Linked DNA regions of Homo sapiens: region 2 is linked to region 1. The links come from fine-mapping of genetic effects on gene expression. Tissue or cell type: tibial nerve. Region 1 holds a variant in brackets; the other region holds the start of a gene. All regions are shown on one strand. Distances are between the middles of the regions. Region 1 has its middle 79 kb from the start of ALX4. Region 2 holds the start of ALX4 (ALX homeobox 4).

Evidence for each region. PIP is the estimated chance that this variant, and not a neighbour inherited with it, causes the effect.
Region 2: ALX4 starts here. The variant in region 1 is the best candidate, but not a certain one, in a credible set for the expression of ALX4 in tibial nerve (GTEx, PIP 0.62).

What each region holds. Positions count from the first base shown.
Region 1 is chr11:44,386,068-44,391,439 of GRCh38, reverse strand. No RefSeq gene overlaps it. Among named protein-coding and RNA genes, the nearest start is that of ALX4, 79 kb to the right of the region's middle. The variant G/C (reference allele first, on the strand shown) is at 2,128.
Region 2 is chr11:44,308,126-44,313,497 of GRCh38, reverse strand. It overlaps ALX4 (ALX homeobox 4), which reads left to right and starts at 3,359. Exons shown (of 4, transcript NM_021926.4): 1 at 3,359-3,901. The coding sequence starts at 3,436. RefSeq lists an enhancer at 2,453-3,381.

The DNA.
Region 1 (5,372 bases):
CAGCGTGGCGATTCCTCAAGGATCTAGAACTAGAAATACCATTTGACCCAGCCATCCCATTACTGGGTATATACCCAAAGGATTATGAATCATGCTGCTATAAAGACACACATACACGTATGTTTATTGTGGCACTATTCACAATAGCAAAGACTTGGAACCAACCCAAATGTCCAGCAATGATAGACTGGGTTAAGAATATGTGGCACATATACACCATGGAATACTATGCAACCATAAAAAAGGATGAATTCATGTCCTTTGTAGGGACATGGATGAAGCTGGAAACCATCACTCTGAGCAAACTATCGCAAGGACAGAAAACCAAACACCACATGTTCTCACTCTCAGGTGGGAACTGAACAACGAGAACACTTGGACACAGGGCTGGGAAAATCACACACTGGGGCCTGTTGTGGGGTGGGGGGAGGGGGGAGGGATAGCATTAGGAGATATACCTAATGTAAATAACGAGTTAATGGGTACAGCACACCAACATGGCACATGTATATATATGTAACAAACCTGCACGTTGTGCACATGTACCCTAGATCTTAAAGTATAATAAAAAAAATTAAAAATTAGCTGGGCATGATGGTGGGTGCCTGTAGTCCCAGCTACTCAGGAGGCTGAGGTGGGAGGATTGCTTGAGCCCAGGAGTTCGAGGCTACAGTGAGCCGTAATTGCACCACTGTACTCCAGCCTGGGTGACAGAGTGAGACCCTGTCTCAAAAAATAAAATATAAATAAATAGTATGACTCTCAGTGATCACCACCTCCTGGTGCTCATGCCCTTGTGAAATCCCCTCCCTTTGAGTGTGGATTTGACATAGTGACTCCCTTCTAACCACTGCTAAGCAACAGTGATGGGATGAAGCTACAAAAGTGACCCTCCGAAATGGGACTACAGAAAACTGTGACTTCTGTCCTGCTCACACTCTTGCTCTCTCACCTCTAGCTCTGATGTAGCAAACTGCTGTGCTGTAAGCCACTCTGTGGATGGGTCTACACAGCAAGGAACCAGTTGAACCAACAGCTTGGGAGGAAGTGAGACTTTCGGTCCAACAGCCTGGGAGGAACCAAATCATGCAAATGTCTAACTGAGTGAGTTTGGAAACAGATCCACCCCTGATTGAGCCTTAAAATGACTTTGGCTCTGGCTGACACCTTGATGGCCACCTAGTGACCCAAATGACCCAGCAAAACCATGTCCAGATTCCTGATCCACAGAAAGTGTGAGATCATAAATGTTGCTGTTTTGCCACTAATTTTGGAATAATTTGTTATGCAGCTGTAGCTAACTGATACACCAGGCTTTGCACCTGCTGTCCCCTCTGCCCAGGACACTTCACTGTCTAGCCAGGCTTCTCCTCAACAGGATGGCTTCATCTCCACTGACCATCCGAATGGTCTTAACTCTCACTTCTTCAGCCCCCTGGACCATAGTGTGTGTATTTTTTCCTAAGTGCTTACCCCACCTGACTGTAACAATTCATCCTTTAGACTGCAGGCTCCATGATGACAGTGGTTATATGTATGTCTTGTCCACTGCTGTCTCTCCAGGGTTTTGCACACTGCCAAGCACATGGTAGAGGCTCAGTAAAGATGAGGTATATGAATGGGTGGGTAGAAATTGATGAAAGAGATGCTGTTTCAAGTAGGAGTTGGTAAGGGGGGCTCGTCTTGCCCACTGCACCTCCTGAACTCCCCACATAGCCCCAGGTGTCCTCTCCTGGGCCAGCTTTTATCTAAGATTTGCCCAGCCCCTTTGGATGATGTTAAGCCACAAACAAGACTGACAAGTTTCCTGCCCCCTTGGTGCCCAGCAGGGAGGCAGACAAGAGCAGAATAAAGAGAACTTCCACTTAGATACGTGAGTTTATCTCCACTCCTTCCTAAAATTTCCCTCAAACGACAACAGCAATGAGGAAGGAAAAGGGGAAGATGCCAGGGGATGGGGTCAAAGAACTCTTGAAAGATGGAAAGTGAAAGAGAACTGACTTTGCAGACGGGAAAAGCTGAAACCCAACGGCCGGAGAGGGGAGTGCCCAAAAGAAAGAAGCCAATCTGAGCCACAAAATTCAGGAAAAGCTGGGAGTTTGATGCACCAGTGATGCCTGGAGGTGG[G/C]GGTGACACTCAGGAAAAACTGCAGCAGACAGACCCTGGATTTAGGGAGCAAGCAGGAGAGTGAAATGGAAGGAACTTCTACTCCCCTCTCCCCACGTGATTCCCAGAACCCAGGAAGCCCAAGTTTTACCCCCAACCAGGTAAAAGAGGAAAAAGACTGCGGATCCATCTCTGTAGAAATCCTCAGCCCAAAGAAAGAGACGGAGAGATACTAATTTGGGGAACTCCTAACTAAAGGTCTGGGTCCCTCTCCAATAATCCCACACAAACTGCCTACTTTCACAGGCTTCCAGCCAGCTTTACAGAGCATTCCTCCAATGCAAACAGCCAAGGATCACCAGGGATCCAAGGAATCCTCTGACATGAAAAGCAGAAAACAAAACAGGGGTGCAGGGAAGAAGAGATCGGGGAAACACAGATAAATTCAGGAAGCAAAAGAAAAAGCTGAAGAAAATTATAATTTATATCCTCGTAACATATGGGAAGATATTTCATCCATGAAACTACAGGCAGTTATAAAAAGGAACAGATTTAGAAATAGCTCTTCAAAATTAAATGTAAGAGCTAAAATAAAATATTCAATAGAAGATAGAGAGAAGGAAATAACTCAGAAAAAAAGACCAAAAAAAGATAAAGAAAAAATAAGAGAAAAAAATTTAAAGTAGTGAATTCAGCCCAGAATTTCAGCAACTAACTCATTAATTCCAGAAAAAGAGAGTAGAGAAATGGAGTGGGTGGGGAGCATTTAATATTGAAGAAATAATACAAGAAACTTTCCCCAAACTGAAGGCTGTGGATTATTAGAATGAGATGTTTTTTAGGAGCCATTATTTGCCCAGACAATGGATGAAAACCAAAATCATCAAGGGATATCATCAGGAAATTTCAAAAATCCCCAGGATAAAGAGATCCTAAAGACTTTTAGACAGAAAACACTAAATCATATGCCAAGAATCAGAATAGTATCAAACTTCTCAGCAGAAACACAAATCTCTAGAAAACAACAGAGGAATGGCCTAAAAATTCTGAGGAAATGTGACTTCCAGCCTCAGATTAAATATCCAGCCAAACTGTCAATCAAACATGAAGGTGGAATGATGACTTTTTTTGACGTGCAAATTTTTTTTAAAACTATCTCCGAGGCACCCTTTCTCAAGAAGCTACTGAAGGATGAGCTCTATCAAAAAGAGGGTGTAAGCCAGGGGATGGCAAACTATGACCTGCTGGCCAAATGCACCCCATCACTTGTTTTTGTAAATAAAATATTATTGGAAGGCAGCCATGCTCAGTCATTTATGCTTGACTGCTCTCACACAACAATGGCAGAGTCTAATAGTTGTGAGACTATGTGGCCAGCAAACCCGAGAATACTTACTATTTGACCTCTTGCAACAATGTGTGCTAATCCAAGAGCAGTGTAAACCAAGACAATGGGATCTAGGATCCAACAAGATGGAATTTTCTAGAACTACAGCTGTGCCCCCAAATCAAACAATCCTCATTGGAGTACGACATGGTGGAGCTCCCAGAGCTTTGTCTCCAAGAAATTAAAACGTGGCATTTTTGGCCTGACTCATGTGCTAGTTCATATTAAGAGACATTTTAAAGTGCTGTCAGAGAGTTTAGGGAAGAATTAATGACGGGCACATGAAAAGCTAAGAAAATGAGCACAAGAAGCAATTTAATAATTGCTGAATCACTGCAGAAAAAAACACAAAAATTATGCAATAAAGTAAACAATTCCATTATTTCATATGGCTTTTCCTCAAACAATATTTTCATAGTCATGATTATAAAGAGCTGAATAATGACTTTTATTAAAAATTGTGATAAATTATTCAGAGAGTATGGAGGGCGACTATGGTCCTGTGTGTATGTGTGTGTAAAAGTTAAACCTTCAGTAGAACAACTGTGGGTAATGTATAAAATAGAGATGTCAAGAACTTCTAATACAGGAAATATTTAGAAATCTAGAGGCAATCCAGCACTTTGGGAGTCCGAGGCAGGCAGATCATGAGGTCAAGAGATCGAAACCATCCTGGCCAACATGGTGAAATCCCATCTCTACTAAAAATACAAAAATTAGCTGGGCATGGTGGCGTGTGCCTGTAGTCCCAGCTACTTGGGAGGCTGAGGCAGAAGAATCGCTTGAACCTGGGCGGCAGAGGTTGCAGTGAGCCAAGATTGTGCTACTGCACTCCAGCCTGGCAACAAAGAGAGACTCTGTCTCAAAAAAACAAACAAACAGAAAAAGAAATCTAGAGGCAAATATTAATAGCAATAGCGGCTAAAAGAACTAAAAATGGTTGCTTTTGAAAAGCAAATAGGAGGCAGGCAGGAGGCTGCTTTTTTAATATTATATTATTTTTATCATATTATTTCACTTTTAAAGCCAAATTCATATATTACATTAATAAAATAGACACTACATCTCAACACAGTAAATAAATAATTTCCTGTTTTCAAACACCATAAAGAGAAGAAAGCAATGCTACAGCTGTTTCTCAGATGGGGTGGCCACTGAAGGCCTTTTTGAGGAGGATATCTTTAAACTTAGCCCTACATGAAAAAGGCTTGTGAGGATCTGGGGAAAGAGTGTTACAGACAGCGGGCACAGCACGGGCAAAGGCTTGGAGGTGAGACCAAGCTTGGTATGTTTAAGAGACAGAAAGGCCAGTGTGGGCTGTGTGGGGAGAGATCAAGGACAGGTAAGAATTGAACCTGAAGAGAAGCAGGGAGACCGTATGGGGTGATGTTGAGTGGCCCAGGATGGAGATGGAGCCCAGAGGGGCCACCCTAGCTGGACAGGTCACCTGGGAAACTCAGGCTTATAGACAGATGTGAAAAGCCCCAGGACTAGAAGAGATCTGAGCAAACATCAAGAGGACCTTGCTTTCAAGAGTCCCTGTAGGAAGTCAAAAGAAGAAATTCAGGCAACCTACGTAAATGCCAGAGTGATGAGCCAACAGCCCCTAATGAAGATTTCATAAATCACTTTCTCCTGCAAGCCTACCCTACTTTCAAAGCGACTTCCCACCTACTCTCAATACCTCATTTCATTCACTAACCAAACAGGTTGAGATCAGAAGTGTAATTAGAAACACAACTCCATTGCTAATTGTCCAACCTGACCAGGGGCCCCTATTAGCTTATTTCCCAATGCCCACAGGCTCAGCCTCCTCCATCCAGCTCCACTTCTTGACCTCTTGACCCTCCCTTGATTTTATTAATTCTCTCTCTGGAAC
Region 2 (5,372 bases), 78 kb after region 1:
AAAAATGCTTCATGAAACACAGCAAATTTTTGCATTGGGTGCGCCTGGTTCAGAGGTTCTAGGAAGAGTGTACAATTGCAATTGTTCCTGTCTCGGGGTTGTCATCCCCACCCCAACCCTCTCCACCACAATTTGCCTCTCATAGTCCTTCCCTCATTTTTTAGACAGGAATGGAGGTGGAGAAAGAAGCGGGGGTATTGCCACCACCTTCTGGGTGCCTACAGGCAGCTGCTGGGCACAGGAGACTGGAGTAGGCGGCTGGCTTGGAACTCCTTGACAAAAAAATGCATCTCTAAGCCCCTGGGAACCATAGGACACTTTCATTCATTCACTCAACAAGCATTTTATGAGTGCCAAGCCCTACAGCGAACAAGACAGACCTGGCCCCTGCTGTGAGAAAACTCACTGCTCTCAAGGCACAGGCTCAGGAAGGTCCAGCACGCTGTTAATTCCGCTACTTGATTTTTGAAGAGGGGGTGGGTGGGTGACCAGCTGTCCTTGACTAAGGGAAACCAAAGAAAGAGTCTCAGAACTTGGTGCTGCACTGAGCAGTTGGAATACACTGAGGTGATAGAGTCCTACAGCCCCAGGTTTAATCTTTATTTTATTTTATTTTTATTTATTTATTTTTTTTTTTGAGACGGAGTCTCACCCTGTCGCCCTGTCGCCCATGCTGGAGTGCAGTGGCACAAACTCGGCTCACTGCAAGCTCTGCCTCCCTGGTTCACGCCATTCTCCTGCCTCAGCCTCCCAAGTAGCTGGGACTACATGCGTCTGCCATCACGTCTGGCTAATTTTTGTATTTTTAGTAGAGACAGGGTTTCACCGTGTTAGCCAGGATGGTGTCGATCTCCTGACCTTGTGATCCATCCTCCTTGGCCTCCTAAAGTGCTGGGATTACAGGTGTGAGCCACCGCGCCTGGTCCAGGTTTAATCTTTTATTCCACAAATATTTGTGGGGTGCCAGGCACGTAGGAGGCTGCCCTGGGGCAACTAGTGGGGTTGAGATACACTCATAGCCAGGCAACCAGACAACCACGAGATCTGGGACGGAGATGAGGCAAACGGAAGCGTCAACTTAAACTAGGAGAGACGGGAAGTCTTCCTAGAGGAAGATGCTCTAGGCTGAACTCTGAATCATTAGCCAGACAAAAGTGCAGGAATGAGTTTAGGGAATTCCAGGTAGGGGAAACCACCTATGCTACAGTGCACAGGCTAGAGACCTTGGCAGGTTCTAGGAACTTGAAGAAACCGCTGGACAGGAGCATTTAGGATGATGGCAGGAGCACTCCGCTTTTTGCTAACTGGAAAATTATTTTGGTTGAGTCTCAGTCTACCCATATGCAAAATGGGTATGATAAGCCTTGTATTGCCAGATTGTTGGCACAACAGGAGCTCAATAAATAAAGGACTCTCAAGTGGCTTAGGTCTGCGGGCCAGTGAGGCGCGGTTCCCATTGGGCATGGAGTGGGGGGCGGCTGGAGCCTGCGCGCTCCTGGCTTGGTTTGCGGAATATCTTTATTAACGAGCACTTCAAGGTAAGCCGGCGATGGAAACCAGATGTGGGATCGCGCGGTCGGCGGCGGAGCAAGGACCAGAGATACTAAGGGGGTAGGGTGGGGGTAAGAATTAGCCCAGATGAGATTGGGAGCAGAAGCGCGACCCCCCAGGTATATTTTTTCTTTGGGAGACCTTAGATGCAGAAAGTTGACATCTGACCCACATTCCTTGGTTCACGGTGCTCAGGCCCTCTTTAATTTTACCTTGCACTTTTACCTCTCACCCTACTCCCAGACTCCCTAGAGGTACGTTCTCGCTTAACGATTTTCTCAGCGGTTTAAGGAAGGCTGCTCTCGCTGGTCTCCTTCAACTTGAACCATTCCACAGCCGGGGGCCAGTTTCCCCTCTGCATCTACGCTGTCCGCACGGCCTTCCAGGTCGGTGGAGGGACTAGCCTGAGCAGAGGTTCCAGGGCGCGACGGCTATTTCCCAGCTGTGTGACCTGGACCAGGTGGCCGCCCCTCTCTGAGCCTCCGTTAGCTCATCAGAAAATTGGGGGCGCCAATCTCTAGCACGGTTGTCATGAAGCGAAATCGAGGGGCTGCACGCGCAAAGTTTTTTCCCTTGCTGTGGCGGTGCCAGGGGCCTTGAGGCTCGCAGTGGTGGTGAAACCACAACCTATCAAAACCAAGCAGTTCGTTTTACAGTCGGGGGCAGTGAGGCCAGAAAGGGAAGAGACGGTCTCACCCCTCTCCCCGACCCCTGACCCCAAGGAGTGAACAGGTGACAGCGCGACTATCGGGCAAGGTCAGGGGGTCTCCAGAGTCCGCTCTCTGTACTTCGCCTGGCAGGAAATCCCCTCGCCTGGGCGCAGACGTGGGGCGTGAACGGTGCGGCCTCTAGACGGGAGCGCAGAGGGCAGCGCTCTAAAGCTTCTGAAGCCGGGCCCAGCCCAGGGCTTCTCCAGGGCTTGAGGGAGCACAGATTCCGCTACATCCCAGCCCAGCGCCCTTACAGCAGAGGGAAATAGTTAACAAGACGTGCAAGTGACCATGCACTGGACGACGAAGGCTTGTGTGTGTGTTAATCTCCCGTAGGAACGGGAATGGGGAGGAAGGTTGGAAACCTAGGAAAAGGTGCCAGCGGGAAGGCCCGCAGCGGCGCCCGCGAGCTCGCGCGCAGGAGTCCGTAGGACTCGCTTGCATCCGCAGGCCCGTGGTCCCCCTGGCTTCGAATGTCAAAACCTGTTAGGTTTATTTTGGGGGGCTTTTTTTTAACCTGTCATTAAAATTTGCATTTCCCTTTGCCCTAAGGCAAAGCTCCGACACCCCGCCAATTCTCAGCCTAGCCTCGGGAGCCCTGGGGATCCTGGCATCTCCCCAGCCCCGCCTAGAATCGGAAAAGCCCTCGGGCGCCTCCGGGTTGAATCCCCGCTAGCGAGTTAGTAGCATCTCCTTAAGAGTGGAGAGGAGGGGGCAGGGGCCAGTGGAAGGAGAGAGGAGGAGGGGACGAGAGAGGGGGAAAGGAAGAAGCAAGGCAGGGAAAAAAATTTACTTATTTTTTTTTTCCGCTGCAAAACCTTAAGAGGGTTTGGGAGATCTGGTCAACTTTCCGAAACATCTGAATCTTTTTACTGCCCTCCGTTCTTTCCCTCGGCTAGCTGTGGGGAGGGAGGAAAGAGAGAGAGGGAGAGAGAGAGGAAGGGGGGGGGAGGGAGGGGAAGAGAGAGAGAGGAGGGAGAGAGAGGAGAGAGACAGAGAAAGAAGAGGGGGAGAGAGAGAGAGGCCGGCGTGGAGGGGAGGAGGGAGAGCGAGCAGGCCGGGCAAGGAGTGCACAGCCACAGCCTCCTCGCCTCCCCAAACTCCCAGCCAAGGCGCGCGGTGGCGTCCTCGCGCCCTCGCTCGCGTCCCCGCCCGCCGCCTGCGCAAGCCAGGCATGAATGCTGAGACTTGCGTCTCTTACTGCGAGTCGCCGGCCGCTGCCATGGACGCCTACTACAGCCCGGTGTCGCAGAGTCGGGAGGGCTCGTCGCCTTTTAGGGCATTTCCCGGAGGCGACAAGTTCGGCACAACTTTCCTGTCGGCCGCCGCCAAAGCACAGGGATTCGGGGACGCCAAGAGCCGGGCCCGTTACGGCGCTGGGCAGCAGGACCTGGCGACACCCCTGGAGAGTGGAGCTGGGGCGCGGGGCTCCTTTAACAAGTTCCAGCCCCAGCCGTCGACCCCGCAGCCCCAGCCGCCGCCGCAGCCGCAGCCGCAGCAGCAGCAGCCGCAGCCCCAGCCGCCCGCGCAACCGCATCTTTACTTGCAGCGAGGCGCCTGCAAGACGCCCCCGGACGGCAGCCTCAAACTCCAGGAAGGCAGCAGCGGCCACAGCGCGGCCTTGCAGGTTCCCTGCTACGGTGAGTGCACGTGCGGGTCACCTGGTGCTGGGGACCACGGGGTGCTTGGCTTCCGCATCCCTTGAAACTGGTGGCTTGCGGGAGGTATGAGTTGGCGGGCTGGGGGCGGGGTGGTGACTCTGGTCGGTAAACGGGATCGATCGCTGCGAGGGAGCCAAGGGATCTGTTCTGTCTCCTTCTTGTCCGCCGGCCTAGGCACGGAGCGTTTCGGCTGTTAAACTCGACTTGGAGTTTGTTTTTCCCGGTCCCTTCGGCATTTCCCCAAACCGCTCGCTTTGCGCTGCCCGCTGGGCGGGATTTGAAGCGGATGCTTCTTACCGGCCCAGGGCGTGCGGCGGCAAGGAGTCTCCGCGCAGCGCTCTGGCGCTGGGCTGCGGGGCTGCGGGGCTGCGGGGCTGCGGGGCTGCGGGGCTGCGAGGCTGCGGGGCTGCGGGGCTGCGGGACAGCAGGACTGCAGAAGCCTCGCTCCTCGCCGGCTGGGAGGCTCCTCGGGCGGCGCCGCCGCAGGTGAGAGCGCCGCAGGTGCGGAGCCAGGCGGGAAGCCCGGAGCGTGGTTGGCCGAAAGCTCACGGGAAATCCAGGCGCACTGGCGCAACACAGTGCGGAGCCAGAGACCCTAGGGTCCCAGGGGACACTGTGGTCTGGCAAGACCCGAGTCCTGGGACCCTGAGCGCTACTGGCAGTGGGGATGCGGGCAGGCCAGTTCCCCTGGAGCTTCTCCCTCGGCGATTCTTGGAGGCGGCAGGCCTCTGAACAATGGTTTAGGACAGAGTAGGAAGGGAGACAGGAAGTCCCGAGTCCCAGGTGGCCCAGAGCTGTGGCAAGAGAGAAGGGTCTGGGTCCTGATTTGAGCCCACGGGGAACCCGGGGGAGCTGGCCTAAATGACCTCCAAGCTGCCTTGAACGCAGCCACAGGAGGCAGGCCTGGGCCCCCCAGAGCACAGCCACCATTGCCCGGGAGAGAGAGACACTCAAGGACGTCTCTAGCCAGAGCAGCTCAGTAGCCTAGGCCTTCTCTTCTTCCAGAGAATCGGGGTTCCTGAACCCCAAAGCGGAAGGGGAAGCAAAGACGCAGAAAGGGAAAAACCTTCTCTGGGCCAGGAGTCCTGAGCACATACCCGGAGGCCTTGGCCTTCAGGTCCGGCCCTGGTGGGAAGAGTTGGGGGCAGGGAATTTGCCCTGATCCAGGCTGATGGAGAGGCACTAGGCCTGGGGACAGAGGCTGGGACACGGCGGAGGCCTTGGTGGCTAGAATAACTTTGGGAAAACAGCCGATGGCAGATATTTTCTCGTATTCAGGTTCCTTCTTTCACAGGCGCAGAACTAGTTCATAGATGGCTGCTGACAAACATTCACAGTCATATGCTTGTCTACAATTGCACTCTACACACACACACGCAGAGAGCATCTTCTTTAGGAGCCGATGTGGTCATACCCCAAGAACACATGCCCATGTGGCCTCGAATGAGCC